7 linked regions of the Homo sapiens genome follow. The protein of the gene in region 4 purifies or fractionates together with the protein of the main gene of each other region. This does not show direct contact. Each region holds a gene or a part of one and is shown on either strand. Other genes may lie near its edges.

What was found.
Region 1: the proteins of PHF8 (region 4) and CASP14 purify together in Homo sapiens (affinity purification with mass spectrometry; one large-scale study listed by BioGRID and IntAct). This does not show direct contact.
Region 2: the proteins of PHF8 (region 4) and TRIP12 purify together in Homo sapiens (affinity purification with mass spectrometry; one large-scale study listed by BioGRID and IntAct). This does not show direct contact.
Region 3: the proteins of PHF8 (region 4) and RNF138 purify together in Homo sapiens (affinity purification with mass spectrometry; one large-scale study listed by BioGRID and IntAct). This does not show direct contact.
Region 5: the proteins of PHF8 (region 4) and RBPJ purify together in Homo sapiens (affinity purification with western blotting; one large-scale study listed by BioGRID and IntAct). This does not show direct contact.
Region 6: the proteins of PHF8 (region 4) and SMC2 purify together in Homo sapiens (affinity purification with mass spectrometry, with the first as the bait; one study listed by BioGRID). This does not show direct contact.
Region 7: the proteins of PHF8 (region 4) and LSM14B purify together in Homo sapiens (affinity purification with mass spectrometry; one large-scale study listed by BioGRID and IntAct). This does not show direct contact.

Annotation. Positions count from the first base shown.
Region 1 is NC_000019.10:15,047,789-15,052,384, forward strand, and holds the start of CASP14 (caspase-14 precursor), read left to right. Parts: upstream 1-1,691; 5' UTR 1,692-1,857; intron 1,858-4,417; 5' UTR 4,418-4,463; coding exon 4,464-4,490; intron 4,491-4,596. UniProt on the Homo sapiens protein: Non-apoptotic caspase involved in epidermal differentiation. Is the predominant caspase in epidermal stratum corneum. Seems to play a role in keratinocyte differentiation and is required for cornification.
Region 2 is NC_000002.12:229,855,806-229,859,835, reverse strand, and holds part of TRIP12 (E3 ubiquitin-protein ligase TRIP12), read left to right. Parts: intron 1-261; coding exon 262-1,064; intron 1,065-4,030. UniProt on the Homo sapiens protein: E3 ubiquitin-protein ligase involved in ubiquitin fusion degradation (UFD) pathway and regulation of DNA repair.
Region 3 is NC_000018.10:32,112,035-32,116,064, reverse strand, and holds part of RNF138 (E3 ubiquitin-protein ligase RNF138), read right to left. Parts: intron 2,321-4,030; coding exon 2,205-2,320; intron 1-2,204. UniProt on the Homo sapiens protein: E3 ubiquitin-protein ligase involved in DNA damage response by promoting DNA resection and homologous recombination.
Region 4 is NC_000023.11:53,935,944-53,939,973, forward strand, and holds the end of PHF8 (histone lysine demethylase PHF8), read right to left. Parts: intron 3,304-4,030; coding exon 3,215-3,303; 3' UTR 2,117-3,214; coding exon of another isoform or gene 2,038-2,116; 3' UTR 737-2,037; downstream 1-736. UniProt on the Homo sapiens protein: Histone lysine demethylase with selectivity for the di- and monomethyl states that plays a key role cell cycle progression, rDNA transcription and brain development.
Region 5 is NC_000004.12:26,421,671-26,425,700, forward strand, and holds part of RBPJ (recombining binding protein suppressor of hairless), read left to right. Parts: intron 1-2,671; coding exon 2,672-2,809; intron 2,810-2,960; coding exon 2,961-3,073; intron 3,074-4,030. UniProt on the Homo sapiens protein: Transcriptional regulator that plays a central role in Notch signaling, a signaling pathway involved in cell-cell communication that regulates a broad spectrum of cell-fate determinations.
Region 6 is NC_000009.12:104,100,730-104,104,759, forward strand, and holds part of SMC2 (structural maintenance of chromosomes protein 2), read left to right. Parts: intron 1-1,230; coding exon 1,231-1,464; intron 1,465-1,694; coding exon 1,695-1,844; intron 1,845-4,030. UniProt on the Homo sapiens protein: Central component of the condensin complex, a complex required for conversion of interphase chromatin into mitotic-like condense chromosomes.
Region 7 is NC_000020.11:62,128,590-62,132,619, reverse strand, and holds part of LSM14B (protein LSM14 homolog B), read right to left. Parts: intron 3,696-4,030; coding exon of another isoform or gene 3,588-3,695; intron 2,836-3,587; coding exon 2,668-2,835; intron 2,402-2,667; coding exon 2,324-2,401; intron 2,091-2,323; coding exon 1,929-2,090; intron 1,265-1,928; coding exon 1,114-1,264; intron 265-1,113; exon of another isoform or gene 1-264. UniProt on the Homo sapiens protein: mRNA-binding protein essential for female fertility, oocyte meiotic maturation and the assembly of MARDO (mitochondria-associated ribonucleoprotein domain), a membraneless compartment that stores maternal mRNAs in oocytes.

The sequences.
Region 1 (4,596 bases), on a different chromosome or scaffold from region 4:
TCCACTGCACTCCAGCCTGGGTGACAGATCTTATCTCCGAAAAAAGAAAAAACAAAATGTTCCAAAATGAACTGACGCAATGGTTGCATCACTGTGAATATATTGAAACCCACTGGATTGCACACTTCAGGTGGGTGAATTGTATAATACGTAAATTATATCTCATTTAAGCTGTTGCTATCGAACCGAGTTTGTTCTTCCTCTGTGCAGCAAGCCAATCAATGTAATGACAGATTTTGCAGAAGAGGAAGAGTTCGTTCATGAGGCAATTAAGCGACGAGGTGGTAAAACAGGTCTCAAATTCTCCTCCCCAAAAATAGGGTTTGAGGGTGCTTATGGGATAGAAAACGGGGTGATCTAAAGTACGGAGAAAGGTGACTGGCAGGTAGGGAAGGTGAGGTAATCAGAATTTCTGAGCAAGCATGGTTGAGCTACATGGCTTTAGATAGGACATTTGTGCAAAAAATAGCATTTAGCATGATCTGAAGGTGGAGTTTACGGCCCTCTGATATCAGCTACCCACATAGGTGCAGTTGAAGGGTCAGTGATCTCCACTGGCTTAAACTAAACAAGAGCTGCCTCCTACCTAGTTCCTGAAAAACAACTTTAAGCACCCATTACTATAGTGTCCCACAGACAAAAATGTTATCTGTAAGGAAGCCAGTGGGAGTTTAGTTATGCATTATTTGGCTACGTGACTTGCTAGTGGCGCTTTTAAGATCAACTATAAGTAAGCAATTAAAAGTAAGTAAGCAATTAAACGCAAGGCAGATTAAGTCTGGAGGGCTTAATCAGGTTCGCCTTTGGTTTCACTATTAACATAAGAAATAAAATGAAACAAAATGGCTGAAAAATAATAAGAGGAGGAGGAAGAGAGGAATCATCATGATGCATCAGTTAAGGCAACTGGGCTGGAACATTTTAGGGGTTGTTTGTTTGTTTTTATATTTAAGACAGAGTCTTGCTCTGTCACCCAGGCTGGAGTGCAGAGGCACAATCTTAGCTCGCTGCAGCCTCAAACTCCTAGGCTCAAGCCAGCCTCCTACCTCAGCCTCCTGAGTAGCTAGGACTATAGGTATATGCCATCATTTTTATTATTATTATTATTTTAGTGACAGGGTCTCACTATGCCCCGGCTGGTCTCAAACTCCTCACCTCAAGCGATCCTCCTGCCTTGGCCTCCCAAAGCGCTGGGACTACAGACGTGACCCACCACACCTCACCCCTTATAGGGTTGAATGCCAACTGTGCCAATTGCTGACCTTGGGCAGTCATTTCACCTCTATGAGCCTCAGTTTCTCCATCTGCAAAATGGGAGCAAAAATACTGATCTGTCTAGACTCTTGAAGACTCGATGAGATAATAACTAAGTGAAGTCGGTGTTATCTACACAGTGGAAGGTGAGATGAATAAACTAGGCATAATGATGATGGTAATAACCAGATGGGCTGGCTATGGGATGGGGGTTGGGAGAGGTTGTGGCTGGGCTGGCACAGACATCTGACTCATTTAGACTCTCTGCCTAGGCCACCTTTGCCAGAGGGAGTCCCCTCAGCCTTGCGATCACTCATCCCATTGGCGTTGGCTCCATTTCCACACCACAGCTGTGTGCCAAGGGTGTGTCATGAGGTTTCTTGAGTGACAGAAAACTCACCGACAATAAAGGGCCAGGTGATTGTGCCACCCGATTCATAGACCAGGCTTCTCAGGAGAAACCCCGGGAGATTCCACACTGTCAGCCCCTTCTCCAAGATCAGTACGTGGGCCTGACTCCTCCTCGGTGCCCAGCTCAGTATTGGCAACTAGGAGAGTAGTGAGATTGAACTTGGCCTTGAGGAACAGCTGCCTCTAGAGTTGGTAAGTGATTTGGTGGATATTAGCCTCTCTCTCTCTCTCTCTCTCTCTCTCTCACACACACACACACACACACACACACACACACACGCACATACACACATACGCTCCCTCTCCCTTCATGAATTAATGCTCTGGCCAGTTTTGGCAGAATGGAAGAAATTTCCATCCATCCCCTCTTTCTTTTCATCTGTTCATTTTTTTCTTATTTGTTTACTCAGCAAATTCTCTCCAACACCACCTCTGTGCTCCCTGCCACACTGTTGGCCATGATGGAGACAGAGATAATGAAGTCAGGCTTTCAGTCCTGAAAACTGAGCTGCCAGTTCAGCCATGAGAGTAAGAATCAAAAACACTGCTGTAATTCAAGTAGGAGCAAGCAGAGCTGTGAGAGTCCAGAGAAGGAAGAGGAAAGTTCCAGGAGGTCAAGAGGGATCCTAAAACCTACCTGGGTCACCATTGCTGTTAAGCACCTAGAGCTCTCCCCAGGTCCTTTGCGGATGGGAAAATCGAGTCTCAGAGAGGAGAGTGAGATGCCGAAGGTCACACAGCTGGGAAGGGACTGAGGCAGGATTCGGTTCTGGCTCCAGGGCTATGCTCCTTCCACTTCCTCCCTCACAATCTTTGGCTCCTCTTTCGTCACAGCACTTGCTGTGTGTGTGTGTGAGTGTGTGTGTGTGAGAGAGAGAGAGAGAGAGAGAGATTTAATATTCATTTCTGTCACAGACTAGAGCTACAGAAGGACAGAAAGTCAGGGAGCATGTCTGTCTTACTTAATGGATTCTAAGTGCATAACACATAATAGATACCCAGAAAATATTTGCTGGGTAGGTGGGTGGGTGGGTGGATGGATTGATGGATGGATGGATGGATGGGTGGGTGGGTAGATGGATAAGTAAATAGGTGGATGGATAGATGGAAGATAGAGATGATGGATGAAGGAATGGATAGAAGGAGGGCTAGATGGAGGGATAGTTGGAAGATAGAATAGATGGAGGGATGGAAGACAGAGAGAGATAATGGATGAATGGATGGATGGATGGATGAATGAATGAGTGGTTGGATGAATAAGTGGATGGATAGATAGATGGATGGGTAGATAAATGGGTTGATGGAAGAATGAATGGGTATATGGGATGACTGATTAATAGATGGGTAGACAGACGGATGAATAGATGTGTGAGTGGGTGGATGGATGGATGGATGAGTGGATAGATAGGTAAGTGGAAAGATAAATTGGTGGATGGGTTGATGAATAAAAGGATGGATGTTAAATTGGATTGATGGATGACTAGATAGATGTGCGGGTGGAAGGATGGGTGGATGGGATGACTGATTAATAGATAAGTAGATGGACAGATGAATAGATGGAAGGGTGAGTGGGTGAATGGATGGATAGATGATGAATTAATGGATAGATGGTAGATGGATAGATGAATGAATTGATGGGTGACTGGATAGATAGATGGATAAAAACATAGATGAATGGATGGTTGATGGGGGAAGGCATAGCAGATATTATGCCACCAAAATTGTCAGAGAAGGATCTAGATAGAAAAAAAAAAAGCATTCCCGGTGGGGTGCAGTGGCTCACATCTATAATCCCAGCACTTTGGGAGGCTGAGGTGGGCAGATCATGAGGTCAGGAGATCAAGACCATCCTGGCTAACACAGTGAAATCCCGTCTCTACTAAAAATACAATAAAATTAGCCAGGCATGGTGGCGCATACCTGTAGTCCCAGCTACTCGGGAGGCTGAGGCAGGATCATCACTTGAACCCAGGAGGCAGAGGTTGCAGTGAGCCGAGATCATGCCACTGCACCCCAGACAGCCTGGGTGACAGAGTGAGATTCTGTCTCAAAAAAAAAAAAAAAAAAAGCAAAAAGCATTCCCTACTGAGGAGAAAGTGTAGGAAAAGGCAAAGAGATGGGGAAATGCCAAGAGTATGACAAAAGTCTGTCTGTGCAGCCAGAGAAGAGAACAGGACTCAGAGATGAGAATGGAGAATGTGGACAGACATTCAGACTCAAGGAAGAGCAAGGGAGGTGGATTGACCCCTTCGTATTGGAGACCCAGTGAGATAATATCAAAGTTGCATTCCCCACTTCGATGACATTCTCCTTTTAAACACTCCTCCAAGGCATCTCTTTGAGATGGCTTCCCCAGCCCGTCATCTCCTAGGTAGAAGAGGCAAACACATGGGTCACTTGCCCTGCTCCTCATTCCAGGGCTTTCAGGGGAAGTTCAGTCCACCAGAAGCTGGTGAATGACCCACGGGAGACACAGGAAGTTTTTGGGGGCGGAGTGGGGGACATTGTGGGGTAGGCTCAGCAGTTCTGAAGAAGACATCCAGAAATGGAAGACATCGTGAAATTGTCATTCTAGGGGTGATATATTACTACTTCATGGATTATCATCTATTGCCCAGATCTGTCCACAGACCAAATCCCCACCACTTGAGTGCTATTTGGTCTCAAAAATCCAGATACATAAGCCAGTTTGTCCCCTGAGCCCCTCGGCCTCCCTTTAGAGAACTTTAACCTATCTTCTCTTGACTCCAAGGATCAGACAAGGGTGCTGAGAGCCGGGACTCACAACCAAAGGAGAAATGAGCAATCCGCGGTCTTTGGAAGAGGTAGGCTGGGTGCAGGTTGAGGGGAGGGTGATCATCTGGGGAGAAGGAAGGTGAGGATTTTAATGTTTTGGAAAGAGTGGAGGGACTGAAAAAATCATGATCTGAA
Region 2 (4,030 bases), on a different chromosome or scaffold from region 4:
TTGTGATTACGAGTGTTAGTGTCAGTAATCTTTGGGCTAAAGAACACCCTTATCTTTTAATCAGATATTTTAGTATCCAAAGTCACATCTGCTTTTGTTTTGTTCTTTTATTTCGTTTTACAGATTTGAACCTTCTGAAAACCTATGTTTAATACTGGACTTAGTAGGAACATATTCATACTTTATTTTTTGAAAGCATTATATATGACAGTTGTAATTATGACAGGCTGATATTAACTGTTTTCTTATCTAACCTCTTAGAAGCTGCAGTTCATCATCTGCTGTGATAGTTCCACAACCAGAGGATCCAGACAGAGCCAATACTTCAGAAAGACAAAAAACGGGGCAGGTGCCTAAGAAAGACAATTCTCGAGGAGTGAAGCGCAGTGCTAGTCCAGACTACAACAGGACCAATTCTCCTAGCTCTGCAAAAAAACCAAAAGCACTTCAGCATACTGAATCTCCCTCAGAAACAAATAAGCCACATAGTAAGTCAAAGAAGAGACATTTAGACCAGGAGCAACAACTGAAATCTGCACAATCACCATCAACAAGCAAGGCTCATACCAGGAAGAGTGGGGCCACTGGCGGTTCACGGAGTCAGAAAAGAAAAAGGACAGAGAGTTCTTGTGTAAAGAGTGGCTCCGGGTCTGAATCAACTGGTGCAGAAGAGAGATCTGCGAAACCTACCAAGCTGGCTTCAAAATCAGCCACCTCAGCCAAAGCTGGGTGTAGCACCATCACTGATTCTTCTTCTGCTGCCTCTACTTCCTCCTCGTCTTCTGCTGTAGCCTCGGCCTCCTCCACTGTACCACCAGGTGCCAGAGTGAAACAAGGAAAAGATCAGAACAAGGCCAGGCGTTCCCGTTCAGCGTCCAGTCCCAGCCCCAGAAGAAGTAGCAGGGAAAAGGAACAGAGTAAAACTGGTGGCTCTTCAAAATTTGATTGGGCTGCTCGTTTCAGCCCTAAAGTTAGCCTTCCTAAAACAAAACTGTCTCTTCCAGGGTCTTCTAAGTCAGAGACATCAAAACCTGGACCTTCTGGATTACAGGCCAAATTAGCAAGTAAGTTTACAAAAAGGTATTTTTCTTTAATTAAAGAAAGTTTCTCTTGGTTTGTCAAAAGCAATTATGCTTTAAAGTTAAGGGTTTTTTCCCCCCAGTCTTAGATAATCTTAGATGTATTACTGTCTGTGTAATTAAGTACATAACAGCATGTAGTAAGTGCTACTACATTTAGTTTTGTTGAGACAGGTAAGGAATACTACCTTCCTATTATTACGAAACCATCACATTTTAGTGTCTGTGTCTTTATTGGTCCTCGCGGCATCTCCTACTTCACTGATTTCCTAATATCAGGATGGGACATAAAGTTGGATTTTCTTCTATACCACATACAAAATTATCATTTAGTTAGGAGTTCTTTTTAGTTATGAGTTGCCATGATCAGAGATCAAATATATATATGTTTTTTTAGATGGAGTCTCACTCTGTCGCCTAGGCTGGAGTGCAGTGGCGCAGTCTCGGCTCACTGCAACCTCCGCCTCCTGGGCTTAAGCAATCCTCTTGCCTTGGCCTCCAGAGTAACTGGGATTACAAGTGTGCACACCATGCCTGGGTAATTTTTGTGTTTTTAGTAGAGATGGGGTTTCACTGTGTTGGCCACGTTGGTCTCAAACTTCTGACCTCAAGTGATCTGCTCACCTCGGCCTCCCAAAGTGTGGGGATTACAGGTGTGAGCTACCATGCCTGGCCAAATATATTTTTTTATATGAGATATTCTTGATGTGTAGATACAGTGAATTAAGTTATTACTATAAATATACCTCAATGTAAATTAAACTTTTTCATATGTAATATCTCACAGTCTTTTAAGGAGTTTTGTCTAAAGATGAATACTACTTATGTTTCACTACTCTTATATACACTACTCTGTGTCCTAAGTGAGTAAGAATATTGCTCTCTAAAAGTTTACAGTGGAGTAGAAAGAATTTGTGTTTTGAGAATACATTCAAGCAAAGAAACAGAAAGTAGATGGAAGAAACATAGCGTTATGTGCATTCCTTCATGAGTCAGTTTTGGAGATATCCAGGAACTCTTCTCCCTCTCTCTTTACCAAAAGACTTCTTCAGGGAACCAGCTGCTCATCTGGGGAATGCTAGTGTCTTTCTTTTCTTTCCTCCCTTCTTTTTTTTTTTTGAGACAGAGTCTCACTCTGTTGCCCAGGATGGAGTAGTGGTGTGAGTGGTACGATCTTGGCTCACTGCAACCTCCACCTCCTGGGTTCAAGCAATTCTCCTGTCTCAGCCTCTCCTGAGTAGCTGAGATTACAAGTGTGCGCCATCACACCCAGCTAATTTTTGTATTTTTAGTAGAGAGGGAGTTTCACCATGTTGGTCAGGCTGGTCTTGAACTGGGACAAGTGATCCACCTGTCCCAGCCTCCCAAAGTGTTGGGATTATAAGTGTGAGCCACTGTGCCCAGGCTTCTTTCCTTATTTCTATTTCAGAAACCTATAAAGGACAAATAGGATAATAAAGCACTTATCTCTACAATTTTTAAAAGCATTTTAATTTTATAATACCTAATTAGGAAGCTTGCTTTTAAGCATCTTTTCTTCTCTGATGGATTTTAGATCTACATTTGGGTAGGGCTATAATGTTTTCTTGGTTTAAAAAGATTGTATATAGTGTCTACTAGCATTCTTGTCAAAGTATAGCTCATATTGAATCAGCCTAACTTAAAATTGAATCAGAACTATTAGCTCTGTTTAATTTAACACTGCAGTCTAAAACTACTTTTGGTTGATTCACATATTACCTGAAATGACAATACTATTAATAGTAGGTACTATATAAAAAATTTTATGTTTAACCTGTATGATAGGTTATTGTGAAGTAACATATTTTACTTTTAGATTGAACTTTGTTCTGTTTTGGTATTTTAAATATGCAGAACATCTGTATAAAATGTTTTAAGTTTAAAGGATTAAGATAGGCTAGATCAGTATCTTGAAGTGAGAAGGAAAAAAAGGTCCAAGTTAAAAGGACAACCAACTATTTGTCCTTCCAATGCTTTATTGATAATTGGAGTTACATATGTCAGCTTTTATGCTGCCTTTCCTCCCTGTGTTTTGTGTCTGTCAGTCCTGCTATGTAATATTCACAGCCAGTGAGCCAGGTTGAGTTTACAGCAAGCTGCTTAGGATTCACTTCCCCTTCTGCCTTCCAGTCTGCCTCACTTGAAGAACTCATCTCTTATGTGTAGGAGGGTTCTAGGGCCAGGCAATAGCAGATTGTACTTGAGTGTCATGGCCTTGGTCCTTTGTAGAGATCAGCTTTCTTTTCTTTATATAGTCTGTTAACTTGATTTTTAAAAGAAAACCCAACTCTACCAGTGGCTAATCAGTGGGATTTTCTCCTTGGTGTTTCAATCAGGAAACACCAAGAGTTTTGGCAGTGTCATTTTGCTGCTGGTTTGATAAAACCAATCCAGATAATTCCATTAAGCCTGCTCAGCACATAGTCACAAACTAATTTAGTATTTTAAAACTCATTTCACCATTATTTCATTCACTTGCACAGTATCTGTGTTCTGTTGTCACTATTAAATCACTTTTCCGTTTTCACTGCCACTATCCCAGTTCTGATCTCTCATCGTAGCCTAAGCTGTTGAAACAAGAGAATGGAACCAGCGTTTGTGTAGCATAAAATAAGTACCAGGTATTTTACATATGCAGTTACATATTCTTTTAAAAAAAATGGTGCTTTAGGATACACTTTTTTTTTTTTTTTTCTGAGACAGAGTCTTGCTGTATTACCCAGGCTGGAGTGTGTGTAGTGGCGCAGTTGGCTCACCGCAACCTCTACCTCCCAGGTTCGGGCAATTCTCGTGCCTCAGCCTCCCAAGTAGCTGGGATTACAGGCGCATGCCACCATGCTTGGCTAATTTTTGTATTTAAGAGACAGGGTTTCGCCATATTGACCAGGCTGGTCTCGAACTCCCGACTTCAGGTGATCTGCCCGCCTCAG
Region 3 (4,030 bases), on a different chromosome or scaffold from region 4:
CATCGCCTCTCATACCTTTCCTTAAACACATGAGACAACTGAGGCAGTTTCTTGACAATGTAATACAATTAGTAAGTGACATCTGAAATTTGAACCCAGCATTCCGGCTCCAAGCCCACATTTTTAACCACAGTCATACTGTTTTTCAAGAATGGCAAAGAGAGGGAACAAATAAATCAACATGGCTAAGGCATGTGATGCAACGATGGATAACCAAGAAAGAGGCTATAAAAAGAGAGGAAAGGGCCAGATCAGAAAGGGCTTTGGAATAAGGAAGTGTGTGTGTGCGTGCGTGCGTGTGTGTGCGTGTGTGTGTGTTTTAGACGGAGTCTGACTCTGTCGCCCAGGCTAGAGTGCAGTGATGTGCTCTCGGCTCACTGCAACCTCCGTTTCCTAGGGTCAAGTGATTCTCCTGCCTAAGCCTCCCAAGTAGCTGGGACTATAGGCACGCGCCACCACGTCCAGCTAATTTTTGTATTTTTAGTAGAGACAAGGTTTCACCATGATGGCCAGGCTGGTCTTGAACTCCTGACCTCAAGTGATCTGCCCACCTTGGCCTCCCAAAATGCTGGGATTACAGGTGTGAGCCACCGCGCCCAGCCAGAATTTTGTCTTTTATACTTCATTAATATTACTTTGGCGATAGAATGTAAAACAGATTAGAGGATAACTACCAGCTAAAAAGGCTATTATCATAGTTCGAGTGAGAGATGATGAGGGCCTGAGCTAGGGAAGTGACAAGATAAAATAAAAGTACAGATGAGGAATATTGCTATTAGGAATCAAGTGTCTATGACCAAGTGGATCTAAGAAATAAGGGGGAGGAAGGCCTGTCTCCTGATAAGAAAATTTGGTCATTAAAAGCGTGATTACAATCATGTATACTAAGAACTTTACTAAAAGCTGGAGATATGCTCAACAAGACAAACACCATCCCCTCACTTAAGAACAATCTATTGGGTAAAAAAGCAGATAGGAAATTACAATAAAGTAGAAGTACAACAATAAGAAAAACATAGAAATGAAGAAACCCAGAAGGACTAAAAAAAAACTATAAGAGCAACAACTTTCAAACAAATTTCCTTGACACTAACAAGTCAAGTAAAATGAGAACCTGAAGTTTTTTCAGACTAGGCAATCAGAAAATTACTGCAGATCTTTACCAGACAATCACTAAAGGTTTTTACCAGAAATTTCAACTGAGTAGGGAAGACGCCTAATGTAGTATGATCAACATGAAGTGCTTAAGGGCGGTTAAGTTACTAAAAATTAGCAATATGTAAAATGAAAGGCTACTAAAATAAAATATTAGAGACTGCTTAACATACTGTCTCCTGGGAACCTTTCTATAATAGTGGCAATATTGTCTTTCCTTACAGTTACGTATGTGCTTACTACTGAAGTTTTCAAAATTAACAATGCATTGTTTAGGGATACATGCATGGGTGATGATACATAAAGAAAATCAAAGGAATGAATAATCCAAATAAGAGAATAGTGGTTGCATCTAGGAGTGTACGGTTCAAATGGGCAGGAGCTCACATAGAGATCCTGAAGTTTTGAAAAATGTTCTTTCTTGACCTGGGTTAATAGGTAACTGGATGTTAATCATTATTTTTTTAAACCACAAGTGCATTTTGGCCATTTTTCTGTGTAAAATACATTTCATAAAAATGTTTAATGTACATGAATCTGAGATAAGATACAAATCAATCCAAATCTAGTTGTTTAAAAGAAATGAGACTCAAACAGAACTGCACTGCACCTGGTTTCATTTTTACATGACATTTTAGAATAAAAATTTCAAACTCTAAGTCTATCCCTTAGATAGCAAAGAAAAAACAGGTTGTAGTTTGCAAATACATTACTGAAAAGGATTTTCTATAGTTTTTCAAATCATTTCAGTTGCAAAATCAGTAAGAGAAAAATCTCCAACTTATTTTTTACTCAAAAAAATGAAAATTCTTAGAATGATTTTAAATAACATAAGCTGAAGTTCATGAAGTCATCTCCCAGATGAGAGCTTACGTGTGCCAAACAGATTTTAAGGCAAATGCTGTAGTTCTGATACTTGGCAATTCACTTTAAAAACACATGTGCACATACACACACACACATCCCCCCAAATACCTTATCATATAGTTCCCAAAACAATTTCCATTTCAATTATGAAAATTCTGTATTTAGGAATAAGTATTGCTTACCTGTTCCCTACTGAATCTTGAGAGATCTGAAAGTTTGGAATGATAGAAGAAACACCATATTCATCCTGATACTTCTTACAAGATTTGTAATGATGTCTCATGCGATAGAATTTAATCTGTAAATTATTAAAATGTGACTTTTAATTTAAAATAGAACTCGTAAGATTTGAAATAGTGTAAAGAGAGGAAAAAATAAAAGTAACTAAATACTCCATTTAAACAGGAGTTGTATTTTTTTAAAGTAAATGATTTCATCCTTAAGTAGGAGTTAAGAATAGATAATACATTTCTGTTCATTAAATGTAGAGATGGAGAAGAGTCCATCTGTCTATAAATTCACTGCAAAAAACAGCAAATAACTTCACACTTGAAAAGACACTACCAGCAGTAGACAAAAAAATTAAAAGCACTAAGAGGATGCCAGATGCTATTGGGCATGTCTTATTATTTAACTTCTGCAGCCTGGCAGAGTTAGAAAGCACTTAAAAAAAAATTAAGTTCCTGGCTGGGTGCAGTGGCTCGCGCTTGTAATCCCAGCCTTTTGGGAGGCTGGGATGGGTGGACTGCTTGAGTTCAGGGGTTCAAGACCAGCCTGAGCAATATGGCAAAATCCTGTTTATACAAAAAATACAAAAATTAGCCAGGTGTAATCTCAGCTACCTGTGGGGCTGAGGCAGGAGGATTGCTTAGAGCCTGGGAAGTCAAAGCTGCAGTGAGCCGAGATTGTGCCACTGTACTCCAGCCTGGGTGACAAAGTGAGACCCTGTCTCAAAAAAAATTAAGTTGCCAGGAATACTTGGAACATTTTTCAGTTTCTCACTGAGAGGAATAGCCAGAATCTCTCGAGTGTGTTTTCCAGCTTCACGTCATTGCCCTGTCAGTTAAACACTTCCTTCAAAAAGATGTAAAAGCAGATCTGACTTGTGTGAATGCATGAAATAGCAACCAGCTTTGCTCACTGAATTCATTAGCTATTAGAAAAAATGTCGGTGATAAATCTATAGACACATGGATATACTCAAAGCCTAACCACCCCTCTCTATTTTATTCCTTCTCCAAATGATAGAATAAAATCCAGATTAGAGAATTAATGCTGGTTATTTGTTAACACCTGATTTTCCTACATGTTCCTTAAAATTAACCAAATATTTTGTGATTTCTTTCTTCTTCTTTTTTTTTAGACAGCGTTTCGCTCTTGTTGCCCAGTTTGGAGTGCAATGGCGCAATCTCAGCTCACCGCAACCTCTGCCGCCCAGGTTCAAACAATTCTGCCTCAGCCTCCCAAGTAGCTGGGATTATAGGCATGCGCCACCACACCTGGCTGATTTTTTATTTTTAGTAGAGACGGGGTTTCACCATGTTGGTCAGGCTGGTCTCGAACTCCTGACCTCAGGTCATCCACCCACCTTGGCCTCCCATAAGTGCTGGGATTACAGGCATGAGCCACCATGCCCGGCCCTTGTGATTTCTTAAATACATACATAAATACATAAGTAAAGTGAGGAGCTAGAGAGTTCCTTAAACTACATAAATCCATGTGCCCAAACTAGTAACATTTCTATGTGTAAAGCTGCAATAATGATGCTACCATGAGAAAAACTTAAGGGGTGAATTTGTACCAGAATGGGGTTTAAATGAGCTAAATGCCAGCTTGCTAATTTAGTTACTTTAGCAAGTAATCAATGAGAAATTACTTTTAGAAAAATGCCACGCTAAGTATTATGAAATTCAGTGATTTTTTTTTCAGTCTCATTTCTCAGTAAGTTTATAATCTAGTAAGATCTATGACCACAGCTTTTTTTGGCCTTTTCTATCCAATTCCCAGT
Region 4 (4,030 bases):
AATATCCTCATGGGGTTTTTCAGTGAGGATTAAATGAGATATCCCTAAGTAAAATCCCTAGCCCAATGCCTGGCACCCAAAAGGCACTTAATATAATGGTAGTGTTTATCAGTGAGAAGTGGTAGAACAGAGTGGTAAGAATACACATTCTGGAACCAGGTTGGTCCCAGAATTTTCATGTATGATACAGGAAGGTTACTTTGTTTCTTCGCTGGCAGGATGAGGGTGTTGGTGAGGATGAAATGAATCAATAAAGTATTAAGAGCAGTGCCTGGCACAAGAAAACAAGTGCGATAATCGTGAAAACAAGCTCTGATAATTATATTCTTCTAACCCATGTACTGGCCCTAAGCACAGTAATCAAGTCCAGATTGCACAACAAGTGCATGGAAGAGAGAGGGAAAGAAAAAAAAAATCCCACATTCACAGAAAGAGGACACACTTGAAAAAGCAGTCTCTGGAAAGCCCTCCCATTGAACTTGTTAGGCCCCTTTGAATTATTGCACCCTTTCTTTTCTGCTCAGTCTGCTTCTGATGATCTACTTCAGGTGTGTGAAGCGTGTCCCTCCTGAGGGTGGGAATACCCTTCCCACTTCAAGCATAAGGCTGAGCACCAGGGAAATGCCTGACAACTTGCTGAGGGAGAGACAAAGAGTACAAGGAGAAGGCAGCACTCCCAGACCCTGCACCACACCACCACCCTCATCACAAAAAAAAAGAATGCCAAGCAAAGCAATTGCCAAGATAAATCACTTTTATCTCTATAGGAAAGGGAGGATCTAAAAAAAATATAAATTACATTAGTAACACAACATAAGAAAAAGACAGGGACAAAAACAACAGAGAAGTCTGAATGATGCTACCCTAACCTATTTATAAAAAGGCCCTGCATCAGAAATTCACAATCCTACCCACTTCTAAAAATATATTTAGACATGTACAGAAGCGGTGGGCTTGTTTTTAAATTGTTTGCTTTTTTTGTAAAAATATATTAAAGGTGAATAGAAATCCTCTCTCCCTTCCCCCTGTCCAGCCCCCAGCTAGGGACTGGAGATCAGGGGTAACTATCTCATGGTGTTCTAAACCTTGATTACTAACACTCCCAACCCCTCCCCAACTCACTTCACTTAGAACCTGAAACATTAAAAAAAACAAAAACAAAGACATCAGCCTCTTTGGAAAAGCATAACTCTGAGGGTAAACTTGCTTTTCATTGGAAACAACACAAAACAACAAACAGGGGGCTCTAAGAACCCAACTAAGCTAAATGAAACCCAGTCAAACAGAGGCTGGGTTTCAGCTCCACAGAAAACTTCTAACAAAGAAATAGAGGGAAAAGGCCGGAATCGGGGGGATTTGCTAGCAATTAGCTGCCTTTGAAAGATCAAGAAGGGGTGTTAATGGACAAAAGGGCTGGGGACCTGATCTTGGTTACAGCAGTCACCGCATAGTCAGGCAGTTGCCTATACAGGACAGAGGCTTCTCCTGCTCTCCCCTCACTACCCTCTGCTGCCTTGAAATCCCCAAAATAAGCAAAGCTGGGCAGAAACAGAGGGGAGGGGAGTAGGGACTCACGTGCTAGGGGGGAGGTAGCCAGGCTTTTTGCCTTTGGTGTGACTAGATGGAGAACTGCTTGGCCCCTGGGGTCCCCAAGGTAGAGAAAGCAAATGGGCTAAAGGAACCCCTGATTCCAAGGAAGGAAAGTAGAGGCAGGGCTATGGAGAAAAGAAAGACAAACTGGAGATACAAAGATGACAAAAGAAGCCTCACAAATTCCCTGTGGCCTGCATGGTAGCTATTAAATTCCCCAGAAGCATTGGGCAAGCTGGGGTGAGGTTGGAGTGGGTGGTACAGGTGGAAAGGGCAAGGGTACACTCCACTTGGGTAGTGCCAAATGGAGGTGGGGGGATGTTCTCCATCGAGTCCAGATTGCCAGTGAGGCAAGGCGGTGGGAGGTGGGGGCACTGTCTGGACAATGGAGACAATCCACGAAGGAAGGACAGGGGAAGGGGAGGATCGGATGGATGGTCTGCTCCTTCACGGATGGGCGTCTCTTCTCTTCAACTTGGGCTCGTGAATGGCCTGTCTGCATTCTGCTTGAACGATGACCTGTCGTCTGGAAGTGCAAAGGCCCAGGAGTGAAGATGTGAGTCCTGAGGTCTTCTTCAGACCAAGACCTCAGGTGGAGAAAGAAGCATGAAAAGTTCCCGATGGAGGACCCAGGTGTGGGCCGTCCCGCCACACCCTCCATAATGTCCAGGCTGTGCTCTGTGGTATAGGCGGAGCAAGCAGGCTGTAGGGCCAGGGTTATCTGCGTCATTGGCAGGTGCTTTCAGGTTTCTGGGAGATGGTTTTCCACCTGCCAGGGCCCAGCCACAGCCACAGCCACAGCCACGTGGATAATGTTCTACATGATTTCAAAATCCAGGCAAATCCCTGGAGCTCACCCTAAAACAAGTGGCCTCATGTGTAGCCAGCTAAAAGTAGCTTCCTCCAACAGGCTACAAAACCGTGGTCAAAGGCTTGGGCATCTGACCTCTCCCTACCTTGACAAGTGATAGGAATCACCTTTCTTTTGAAAGGTAAGTGAAGTTGGCATTTCTAGGCCACTTCTGGAAATGGCCCACAGTGGGGCAGGAAGGAGGCTCTAGGCCTTCCTCTTCATTTCCATGAAGCATTTGGCAAGAGGGGGCAGAGACCACAGCCTTCTCCCATGAGCAAGTCTGGAGGTGGGGCATGTCCACTGGACTGGGGAAATGGGGCAAACAGAATGGGTGGAGGTGGGCAGGCTTCTGGATATAGGGCTAGAGTTGCAGAAAGTGTCAAGCACTGGGCTTCCCACTTCATGGCTCAGGCTCCTTCATACCTCTCCTCATCCTGCCTTCCAGCTCTAGCGGGGGATGAAGAATAAAGAACAGACAAGGCAGGTGACGGGAGTGGTTTGGACGAGTAGAAAAGAGGGTTCTAGTCAGCTGGAAACCTCTCCCATTTACCTGCTCCTCAGTGGAGAAGGCAGGCAGGATGCTCTAGTGAAAGTGGGGAAGGGAACTAGAAGGAGTCGGTGGAGGGGTCCGTGCCTTTGGTAAGTCCCAAGAAAGCAGGACAATGCACCTCAGCACCTTGTCCAGGGCAGATAGGATCCAGGAGTGCCCCAAGAGTTGACAATGGAGAAGGCAATGGGGGTAAAGGGGTGAGGGGTGGGACACAGGAGGGCTCACAGAAGTAGTTTGCCATTTCTGTGGATTTTCAGGATACGGCCGAGTCTCTGCTTTGCTGTGGCCAGGCCCTTTTTGGGACGCTTTCCTGTGGGGGAAGGGAAAAGTAAGCAAGGGCTTTGGCAAGGGCTTCAACATCAAATCTGGCACCAACTGCCCTCAGGCCACCTCCCCTTCCTGTTTCTCTACCCACAAAGTTTCTCCATCCTTAGACCATATTGGGCAGGAAGCCCTCCTTAACTACTTCCAACCAACACCACATGCTTTGACTCTTCCTCCTATGACCTCCTGTAGCAGCAAGACTCCCTGATTACAGTTTGTCTAGTTCTTTTTCTCCACTGATTACTCTGGTCCCAATCATTTTCCTTCCAAGATCCTGCAGGGAGGTAAATGTACTTCCATACCCTCTTATCCTACCCACCAGGACTGGACAAGTGCCTGGTTAGTGATTAGAGCTCAGTGTCCCTGAAGTTGCCATCCCTAGGGCCTTGCTTCATTAGAAACTCTCATCTTCATCAGCCTTCAACATCACACCAACCTCCATGCCCTTGAGCTGCGTACTCTAGGGACTGGGCTTTGAGGACCAAAGTGAGGGAAAGGAAGGCTTCAGTCCTCTAACTCTTTGTTGTCTCTGTCTCCCCACATTAAATCCCCTCCCATGTCCTATTTGACTGCCTCCATATTTGATCAGTTCATCTCCTTCCTCTCCATTCCCTCTGGCAGAGCCCCAGGTACTCTTCCTGCCTGCCTGAACTTGTATATGTGCCTCCTCCCTAGAGTTCCCATCTCTAGCCCACCCTCTACCTCCTTCTGGC
Region 5 (4,030 bases), on a different chromosome or scaffold from region 4:
TTCATTATCTCCATCACCACCAACACCTCTTCGTCTTCTAATTGCTGGAGTATTTTAATGTAAATCTCATCCTATCCTTTCAACCAAAATTTCTGCAATAGTGACTAATACATGCCCTTTTTTTTGAAACATCATTATACGTAACAGTTGACAGCAGCTCTTAAGTGTCATCTAATATCCTATTTCATGTACAGATTTATCAGATTGACCCAGAATGTCTTTTTATAGTTTTTTTGCTTTGTTTTGTTTTACAGTGGTTTGTTCAAACATGGATTCAGATAAGGTCCACACATTTTAGTCTGTAATAGTTTCTTCTCACCCTCTCTCACCTTTGTTTTCCTTCTATGTCATTTATTTGTTGAAGAAACTGGATCATTTTTCCTGTTGTGGAATTCCATATTCTGGGTTTGGCTGATTATATGTTTCTCTGTCTCTCTTACTTTCCATGAACTGGTGGTTAGACATAAAGACTTTCAGAACTGATTGGTAAGATATACATTTATTTCCATTGGATTGGAAGTCATAATATCTGATTATCCCCTTTTTTTTTTTTGGTCATGTTGAGATTGATTATAGTAGTTCAGCTGTTGTAAGTCTATTCCACCCATAAAGTTCCTCAGCAAACTTTAACCTAATGGTTTTAATAGTCATTGATGATGTTTAAATCCATTTCATTAAATGCTGCAAAATGGTGATATTCTAATTTTTTAAATTCTAACTTCTGCATTCGTTAGCTGGAGTTTTTTCTACAAAGAGGGACTTTGCCATATCAGCTATTTGCTTCAATTGTAATATGTAATGAAAAGGCAGGATTAGGTGCTTGTTTACTCATTTGCAGAATAATAACATTCCTTGAAAGTGACCAGTGGGGTTTTAGGGTTTTTGTTTTGTTTGCTTTCTTTTCATTTTGTTTTATTATGAGATCATGGTTTTTGTTGTGGTTGTTGTTATTGTTGTTGTTTTGTATTGGTTATATTTTAGTCCACTCAGTCCACTAATATCACTTAGTTTTTATTACGGAAAAATTTCAAACACTCTCAAGTAGACAGAGTTGCACCATACAGTGAAACCTCTTATGTTCATTCTCTAACGTCAACAGTGATCTTAACATTCAACCAATCTTATCTTCATCTATACCTGTACTCCAGCCCCACTTTCTTCTGCCCTTATTTTAGTTTGATGCATATCCAATCAGTGTTCAAATTTAAAATGGTCTAAAATATTTTAAAAATCAGATTGCTTGAATCAAAATTCAGATCTACCACTTAGTACAGTTTATATTGTGATATGTCCTTGAGTATAATCTATGGACACCCCCTCAACTCTTGCAATTTATTTAAGTAAGTTGAAACATTTAGTCACTAGAGATTTCCACGTACTAGATTTTGCTGATTTCATTTATTTGGTATAGTTTAATGTATTTTCTGTAAATTGGTAGAGTCAAAAAGAAATAGAGCGTGGGCCTAGTTGGAAAGACAGATTTCATTCAGTACTATTGCAATAGGGGAAAATAGAACCAAGTTCCATTTCAGAATACAACAAAGACACTTGGGGATGAAGCAGAGTGAGAGGGTCAATGGATGGAAACTTTCTAAAAGGAGACATCAAAGGTAGAAGGTTTCTTTCTGACCTGACTTAGGATTCCTGCTAAAGGCAGGCCAAGGTGATCATAGATCCAGAGTGGGAGATAGTTTAGGAGGATTCTTACTATATATAACTGAGCTAAACAGACTGATGACGGGGCTCAAGGACAAATACTAGTTGATTGCTCAGAGCAGCCTGCTTAAAAGTATGGTCAAGGAGAGAATCTTTAGTGTAGAATGGTGATCAGATTTAAGTTTGTTGTCCTTTGGTTCTTGTTTTCTTTCTGAAAAGCAAGACCTGCTTCAAAGGTGGTGGTGTGCTCTCTTGCACTAGGAGGTATATTATGTCTTGTATTCAGGCTATTTGCATTTCAGATTACACAGTTTTATGTAACTGCTTTAACTTTGTGTTTGTACTGAATATTAGTTTCTTGATGGCAGAGAACATATTTCACTTTCAGAATGTTTTTCTGCTTACATGGATTTATTTTCAAGAAATTTCATACAATACTTTATTTAGAAGAAAGCAGAATTTTCTGAAATCACAGTATGCAGAGGCATTTACCATCAACTCTGACAAACATCCTTCTGGTCCCTTTTCTATGCATGTATTCTGTGGAATTGGATGCAAACACATATTAAAAATATATACATTTGCCTAATGGAACCACAGCATACAGAGTATTTTATAGTCTGCTTTTCCATTCAGTGATATTCCAGGAAAATATTTTCTTATCAGTGTGTTTAGATACACATCCTTTCAATAGGTCATCATTTAAATTTCTACTGTCTAACATTATTTTAAAAGTAAGTTTTTCTCTAATAATCAGCACCACATTAAACATACTGTGTAGCTTTCACTTTAAAATTATTTTTATGGACATTTGATATCATTAGCTTGACATTATTAATAACAGTTACCTTGACTTTTTGATATCATCTGTACTGTCTTGGAAAGTGAAAATATTTGTCAAACTGTTAAATGATAAGAAAGAATAATTATACACTGCCAAGCAGAATTTCCTTCTTTTGCTCCCTCCCCACCTTCTGCTCCAATCACATAAATAAGAGCTGTTTTTTCTTTGCAGTATGCATTGCCTCAGGAACAAAGGTGGCTCTGTTTAATCGACTACGATCCCAGACAGTTAGTACCAGATACTTGCATGTAGAAGGAGGTAATTTTCATGCCAGTTCACAGCAGTGGGGAGCCTTTTTTATTCATCTCTGTGAGTATAAAAGTGTGCATTTAATGTTTTTAGTGTGAAATTGTTAAAATCTTTTGATGAGATACATGGATATATTAAGTTTTGTCATTTGCCTAATCATAAAATAAATTTAAAAAGATGACAATTTGATTTATTTTTCCACCTACTGCAGTGGATGATGATGAATCAGAAGGAGAAGAATTCACAGTCCGAGATGGCTACATCCATTATGGACAAACAGTCAAACTTGTGTGCTCAGTTACTGGCATGGCACTCCCAAGATTGGTATGGCTCTACTTTTGCTTTAGTGATAATGTGAAGTAAAAATTAATTTCTTAAACAGGAAAATCACAACATTCAAATGGAAAAACACACCTCAGTTTTATGCTTTTTAATTTTAAAAGGTATGTTAGTAATCAGTGCTGTTTATAATTGACAGTTATGCTCTACCTTATTTCAGAAATGCTTTAAGGTAATAGCCAGTTTTTACAAGTACATTCTTAATGATTTTTTCTTAAATGATTTCCAATATATTTTGGTGGCAATTTCCTTTTTGGCTGTTTATCTGAAGATGTTCAGTAGAGGGCACTATAAATTACATTTCTTTTCTTTACTAATGCGGATAAACCGTATTCATTTTTTTGTGGTACCTGCCATATCCCAATGTAGGACCAAGTTTGCAAACAGAAGACATTCTTATTTCTTTTGAAATATAAGCGTAATTTTTGTTAGCTTACTCTCTCACAAGAAGATAGATTTATTAAAACTGAAATAAAATTGGTATTTCTAACTGGGAGCAGGGCATAGGATTTAGGGCTTTTGTTCAATAGAAGACATTGAAACTCGGCCACGCATGGTGACTCACACCTGCAATCCCAGCACTTCAACAGGTGAAGGCAGGAGAAGGAGAAGTGACTAGCCCTGGCATCACTTGAGCTCAGGAGTTCGAGACTAGTCCTGGCAACATGGTCAGACCGTCTTTACCACTGACCCCGCCCCCCCAAAAAAAAAATTAGCCAGGCATGGTGGTGCACACCTGTAGTCTCAAGCTTAAGTGGGAGGATCACTTGAGCTCGGGAGGTCAAGGCTGCAATGAGCGGTGATCGTACCACTGGACTTTAGCCTGGGCAACAGAATGAGATCCTATCTCAACAACCACAGAAAAGGAGATCTTGAAATTGTAAAAACTACTTTTGTTAGTAAAATGAAAACAAAAGTCCTCTATAGTGCCACCACCCTCCC
Region 6 (4,030 bases), on a different chromosome or scaffold from region 4:
GAACAACATTTCTTAAAGATAAGGCACTCTTAGACACCCTCATTGAGAACAATTTCCAGGATAACAGGGGCTATCACTATAATTATTGCTATCAAGGTATTTTGTAAGCAAAAGGTATTGAAACAGAGGATTGGATTGTCTCTGTAATCTTTGCAGCTCCTGACTGTCAAAAGACATGGCACAATATGTCATCAAAAAATGCATTTATGAGCTACGTTTTCTTTTTCTTGAGACTAGTCTCACTGTCGCCCAGGCTGGAGTGCAGTGGTGTCATCACAGCTCACTGCAGCCTCCACCTCCCGGTCTCAAGGGATCCTCCCACCTTAGCCTTCTGAGTAGCTGGGACTACAGGTGCATGCCACCACACCCTGCTAGTTTATTTTTTTGTAGAGACAGGGTTTCTCATTGTTTCTCAGGCTGGTCTTGAACTCCTGGGCTCAAGTGATCCACCTGCCTCGGCCTCGCAAAGTGCTGGGATTACAGGAGTGAGCCACTGTGCCCAGCCAAACGACGTTTTTAAAGCTATCTCCTTTTAGGAATTTATTAAATGCTCATTGAAATTTGGTACTACTCAGAGCTGTCTTGTGAATCCATATAGTAGTATAAATTTTACTGGAAAAATTGTAATCTTGAAGATACCCTTTTTGTATGTATGATTTAGTAGAAAACACTAGATCAGGAATTTAAACTTAGGTCCTAGACTTCATTTTGCCACAATTGCTTTCTAAATCTAACAACATGGACAGATCATTTAATCATTCTGAATTTGTTTTTTATGTATAAATTAAGGATTTTAGTTATTACTTTGTCTGGTCCCAGTAGGTCCTTATGGGAGTCGTGTTTAGTAATGATGTAAGCGAGTGCTTGTAGTAGTGCTTCAAAGTATATTAGAGTAGGCATCTTGATACTACTACTACAGAATCCATGTAATAGTGTAACATGGTGGGTGTGTAAGCTTATGAACCTTATGTCCATATTTCTTTGTTAAGCTCAACTACCCAAGTGTGTGTTAGAAGAAATAGCCAAATAAGATTCACTAGAGATGGTAGAATGCTATCTAAAAGTCCTGACTTCTGATGTTACGTAAAGTTTCCTACAATTTAAAATGCTATAATTGTTTAATACAGGACAAAATCTATTATGTAATGAGAAATTTGTTTCATCTTGCATAATTGAATTTTTTTTTTAATACAATTTTGAGTTATTCTTTTTTTGTGATTTCTCTTTCAGGAAAGATCGTCCTACTTGGAGTACCAAAAAGTAATGAGAGAAATAGAACATTTGAGTCGTTTATATATTGCTTATCAGTTTTTGCTGGCTGAAGATACCAAAGTACGCTCAGCTGAGGAATTAAAAGAAATGCAAGATAAAGTTATAAAGCTTCAGGAAGAATTGTCTGAGAATGATAAAAAAATAAAAGCACTTAATCATGAAATAGAAGAATTGGAAAAAAGAAAAGATAAGGTCTGAACATATGTATAAGAATCGATAATATACTCTGTGAAAAACGTACTAAATTATATATAGTAACTATTTAGGATTCATTGGGCATTGTCTTCCGTATTGATTTGTTAATCTTATAGTAAGATAATGAAATAACTTATAAAAAAGTGTTTGATACAGAACTCATACAATAAAATGACAGCGTGAACAAATTTTACATAAGTGATTGAATTGACTGCATTTTGTTATAGGAAACTGGAGGTATACTTCGATCTTTAGAAGATGCTCTTGCAGAGGCTCAGCGAGTTAATACTAAATCTCAAAGCGCATTTGATCTCAAGAAGAAAAATCTGGCATGTGAGGAAAGCAAACGCAAAGAGCTGGAAAAAAATATGGTTGAGGTAAGTGAGCTTAATGTGCCACTAGTGCCACTTGTAGACAAGTATATAGTCTCATTAGTGTACATTTATCTATTCCATGAATATTTAGTGAGTGTCTTCTATAAGCTAAGTACAGTTGTTTGGGCTGTGGTTACAACTGGACCAAATGGTCAAAAATCCTTGCCTTGTGGACCTTCATTCCATTGGGGGAAATGATAATAAAGAAAATAAATAAAACATGTAACATGTTATAGAGTGATAACTGATGTGGAGAAAAAGCAGGGAAGGGGATTAGGAGTGTAGGGGAAAAAGAGTACAATTTGGGATTTTAAGTTGGATAGCCACTGAAGTAAGTGGAGAATAGGAAGAACGGGTTTGATAAGCTTAAGAAATACAGTATGAATATAATAGGCTTGAGGAGCCTGTTAGACATCTTGAGTAGTGATGTTGATTAGGTACTTAACTATATGAATATTGAATCCAGGCAAAAATACAGATTTGGAGGCATCATCAATGTATAGGTGTTATTTAAATCCATGAGACTAGATAAAATGATCAAGGCTGTAAGTTCATATAAGAAGGTTGGAGCCCTGGGATACTTTCAACGTTTGAATGTTAGGATAGTTCAACATTCAAAAGAGATTGAGTAGTGTGAGGAAAATTAGGCCAGTAAATTGTCCTGGAGTCCAGGTAAAAAAGATGTTTCAAGGAGAAGTGGCCATGAGTACCTGATTAGATTGTGTTCATACTCTCACAGAATGAAGGCAGAAAAAAGAAAAGTGAATATAGATAACTTTTTGAGAAGTTTTCTGAAAGAGGGATAAATAGGGAGGTAACTGGAGGGTAATACAGAAGAGAGTTTTTGGCTTGATTTGACATGGGATAAATAAATTCTATATTGACAGAAAAGATCCAGTAGAAAAGTCGTCATTTGTGATTCAGGAGAGAGAGATGGGAGAGTTGTTAAAATAGGGCCCCTTAGTAGCTGCAAGTAGGATAGGAACTAGTGTATAGAGGAGGTCGCCTTCGCGAGAACTAGGAATAGGTCATCCATGGTAACAGAAGAGTCAAGTATATAGTCTCACATGTAGGTAGATGAGTAGGTGTGTTTTTGGAGCTTATGGCATTTCTTTTGAGGGTGATTCTGTTGTCCCAGTGAAGGTATACATTTGCCTTTTCACTGAAAAAAAATTAACTTTGTGAAAATAATTTCTTTATACTGCCCTGTTAGATATTTTTGCAGAGAAATACATTGTTGAATTAAGAAACAGTGGAGGAAAATTTAGACAAAATTTTGAAGCGATATGAACGTGTTGTAGCAGTCTGTGTTGTGGCATCCAAGAACTGAAATCAATTCATCAATTACTTTTTTTTTTTAGGTGAGGTTTGTAAAGCTCTAAACATGTGGACCTGCCTTGTTTTGGGTTCATTTTTCTTTAGTCTTGTCATGTCCTTAAGCTTCACACACTGATTGCTCCTTTTTCATCCTTCTTTTCTGTATCCCCTTATTCTTCTAGATCTCTTAATGTTAGTATGCCCTAAGGCTAGCACTCTGATATCTTTTATAAACTCTCACGCCATAGGTGGTCTCATCCAGCTCTGTAACTCTAAATATCATCTATATGTTGATGCCCTCCAAATCTATAAGCAGGCTTAACTCCCTAAACTCTATGAAGCAGGTTTATTGTGTGCAGATTACCAACTTGTCTGAAGCCAGCAGACATAACACATTCATACACAACATTTTATGTGAAATGGATTTATTACTTATTGATAGGCAACAAGGGAAAACAGAAGTCTAGGATTCATTGCAAGCTGATCTCCCAAGGCTCAGAAAAGCTGCCTAGGGTGGTTTGAATTTTATTTGCACGTGCTCAACTTGCACAGCAGCTGAGGGACCCCAGAAAACAGCCTGCTCTGAGTTTATACCCTAGAGTAACATGAGACACTGGGCTGAAGCATTGAGATTATGTTTTAGGGCAGCTGGAGGAGCAGATAGAACAGTCCTGGCTCTTCTAACCATTGCCTCCCTTTCTTGGGATATTGCATTATCAGCACATTCTACAGTTATTCTTGAGAACTGTAAGCCAGGGAGGGAAGAACTGGCTTAGTCTAATGCCACCTAAGGAGTTGTCCTGTAGTTTATCCTCCAATCTAGGTATCCCCTCTAGCAAAACTAGTCCTTTTATTATGCCCACAGACTTCTC
Region 7 (4,030 bases), on a different chromosome or scaffold from region 4:
AAGACTTAGGAGTCATTCTGGACTCTTCTCTTGTCATGTTGGCCAATTCTGTTAGCGCCACCTTCAAGACACATTTAGACTCTACTCCTTCCCTCTGTCACCACCACTGCCTGGTTCCAAGCCACCTGTGCTGCAGCACTGGCCCCTAACTGGCCAGTCAGCAGCCACACTTGCCCACCGTCCAACCACTCTCACCAAGGACGCCGTAAAACATCAGACCGCACCACGCTTCAGCACAAAACCCTCTGATGGCTTCCCGCGGCACTTGGAACAAAAGCCAAAGTCACTGCCATGCCCTACAAAACCCTACAGGAACCCATCCCCCAGACTCGGCCTGTCTGGAAGCACTTCCCGCACTCATCTGCGCAGCCTGCTCTGCCTGTGAGAACTGATCATCCACTTCCCATCGAGTTACAGCCCCATCCCATCGCCCTCACTGCCTGGCCTTCACGACATGCTGTTCTATTTTTCCCCTGGCAGAACATGAACCTGAAGAGGTGGCGCTCTCCAGCCTGCCTTCTGAGGCCCCCTCAACGCCCCGCGGCATGTCTGGCGCTCAATCTGCAGGACAAATGGGCCCAAGTTTCCAAGCCAGGCCCACACTGTAGATGCCACCCACTCCCTAGGGTGCTTCGCGGGACTTCTGACCAGCTGTTAGGTGTGAAAAATAAAACACACCACATGGTCCCTGGCCTCAAACAATGAAGTGAAGGAAAGCCAGTGTGAGCACGTTCTAGCCATACCTCAGGCTGCTAAGCAAGGACCTCAGGCTGCCAGGCCAGCGGGACCAGCAAGCAGAGCACCGTGAGGTATGCTGAATGTGGACACGGGTCTGCCGGGGGGGGCGGTGCAGCCCAGCCTTTGTGGGGACAGGGCAGCAAAGCCAAGAGGAAACAGGCTCGACCTCAGCCAACTCCTCGGGTCGGGATCCCCAAGAGGCTTCCCACACGCAACCTGCTGGGACTCCGGCACCCATCATGCAGAAACGCAAGCAGGACCCTAGAACAGCTACCCTGAGCCTCAGAGTCCAGCTCTGCCCTCAGGTTGAGAGCCCTCAGCCCTGTCCTTTCTAGATTGGAGGACTGTCCTCCCCTCATTCATTCAGCCTCTCACCTGGTCTTGAGTTCAGAAGAGATGTTGTCGAAGAACGACTTGGATTTGTCATAGTAGCAGTTGGGCCCCAGAAGGTCTTCCTCAGCGGGCGCTTCGGCACTCTGGGTCACCACAGCCAGGTCCTTCTCTTCCCCCTTCTCAGCCTTGTCATCTACAAAAAGAAGCAGAACACGTGGAGATGGAGGAGGGGCAGAGCGCACAGCCTTTTAGCAGGGTGGTCCCTCCGGGCTCACTCGGAAGCCACCCTCAAGCTAAGACATCAACTATGCCTTGTGCAAAGCAGAAATCTCTTCTTCTACCTTCTAAGTACAGGTCTCGTTCTGCCGTCTGGGCTGTGCAGTCTGCACCTTATCCCACCCATTTTCACACCTCCCAGCACCTCACTTCATTAATTCCTCACTGCCGGTCACCATCCGCCTGGCATCCCCGGTTCCTCTAGGCATCTCTTCCTTTTCCTTGAGACAGAGTCTTGCTCTATCGCCCGGCTGGAGTGCAGTGGCGCAATCTTGGCTCACTCCCACTGCAACCTCCACCTCCTGGGTTCAAACGATTCTCCTGTCTCAGTCTCCCGAGTAGCTGGGATTACAGGCGCCCACCACCACGCCTGGCTAATTTTTGGATTTTTAGTACAGATGGGGTTTCATTGTGTTGGCCAGGCTGGTGTTGAACTCCTGACCTCAGGTGATCCACCCACCTCAGCCTCCCAAAGTGCTGAGATTACAGGCGTGAACCACCACACCCGGCCAGGCATCTCCTCCTAACACTCTCTAGGGGTACTCCTGTGCAGAGAATAATTTTCATATAATGAGCCAAACCTTTAAAATTCAGTTTCTTCTTAAATTCTTTGTCAAGCTCCTCTCGGTTGAACTGGGCATTTGCACTCTCGAAATCAAAGTCACCCTCAAATTTGATTGTGTTTTCCTTAACGTTAGTTGGACGGTTTTGCCCTCTGGAGCGATTCCTTGTTCGCCTGTTTCCTGTGAGGACAAAGGACAGCCCTGGCTGAAGTAGGTCACCAACCCAGTGATCTCAAACACCTCACAAGGAATTTCCAGGCACACCCCCAAGGCCACAGAAGGAACAGAGCACACAAGCAGCGACTTCACACCAGCACCCCTGAAACCGTCAACCAGAGAAGCAGGCAGGAGGGCAAGCAGAGCTCAGCCTGATCACTCGTGGTCCCCAGAAATCAAGTGGCAACAGGTGTTACCTGATCGCCTCCTCTGAGGTCTTCTGTTCTCGTCATTCACCTGCCCTTGAGCTTGCACAGCTGCCGGCTGGACTACATCTACGGCGCAAAAGGGAAGAGTAAGGCAAAGCTCCTATAGCAGCCGGAAGCCAGAACCCAGCTGTGGAAGCAGGCCCCACCACCATGGGGCACGCGGCCAGGGCGGCACCGCAGGAGGCTGCTGCACAGGCCTGCCCTGCAAAAGCACATGGGGCTTAGGATGGGGGAGTAGTATTTTTTTAATTAAAAAAAAAAAAATAGCCCAGGAAGTAGTGTGCCACTTTTAGAACATCAAGCAAACTCCAGGAAATGATGTGTTCAAGTACCGCTGGCCGTCTTGCTGCTCGGCTGGGCCTGACGACCGTTGAGCTGCGTCCCTGTGGTGCCCTTGCCAGGTAACAGCTTTTTAGCATTCAGGTTGTCAGCAGAACCAGTCTGCACAGCCTGCTCCACCATGGGGCTCTTGCCGACTGGGATGGATGGAAAACCAGCTCCTGAATTGAGGAGGGGAGGAGGGTTTAAAAACAGAGAGAAAAGAAGCAAGCCTTATATCTCCAGGCATTTCTCTTCTGCTGGCATGTCAGGAAGGAAAGGAGGGCAACTGCCTAGATGTTCTATCAAATCCAGGCAAAGCACCCCCAGACTGGGCCATTCCCTCTGAGGCTAGCCCAGGCAGCAAAAGAAGGCCAAGAGTCACTGGGCAGCACCAAGGCCAGTTCATCTTTGGACTCCCCACTCCCAAAGCCCTGAGCTTCCCAAGTTAGGGAACCTCAAGGACAGGAAAAACACCGTGCCTACAAACAGGCACCTCCCCAGAAGTGTGGAAACAGCTTTCTTAAAACCACACAAGCTCCAATCCCAAAGGAGCTCAGCAGCCCCAAGATCCTGATGAATTCAGGATCTGAGAATTTGTTTCATTCTGGTCCACACTGGAGAAGAACCAGCCCAGCCTGGGATTTTCTAGAAAATGCAGTGAACAAATTCTGAAGTTAAATTCTACAACACTGTCATTTCCACTTAAGGCACAATAAAACTAAAAATGATGAAGCAGGAGCTGACTTCCGAGACGTAGCAGCCTACACTTCTCTCAAGGGCAAAGGCTCATCATGAAGACACAAAGGGCTCCTAGGTAGCCTTTGGCAAGGGGCTATGCCTATGAAACTGCAGTCCGAGGCCCACGCACAGGGGATGAACCCTCAGAAACCAGGCCCTCTGAATCAGGAGGAAAATGGGAAGCACCACCCACCTCTCTCCATCTCCTCCCTTTCCAAGGTTCCAGGACCTGTAGGGACTCTAAACAGGACAATGTGGGACTGGGTGTAAGTGAACAGAGATCTGAAACAGAAAAGGCACCCTAACCACAGGGTAATTATTATTAGACGAACAGCCCAATACACATGAAGACTGGGCATCTCATCTTACTGCTTTTACGGAATAGAAATGAAAAAAAAAATTGACTGTAGAAAAATTCCTTGTAACCAGATCAAGAGAAGCTCTCAAAGGGCAGGTTGGAACGACTCTGCATAGAGGTCTGGAAAGTGTCCTCTGGCGGGAATGCACCCGGGCCACTTTCTCACTGATTGTCTCACTCAGCATGTCCGGGAGACAAACACAGCACTGCCTGCCTGCTGATCATACTGTGACTGCAGGGGCATGGATAAGGGGCTTGTCTGCTTTTTACACAACCAA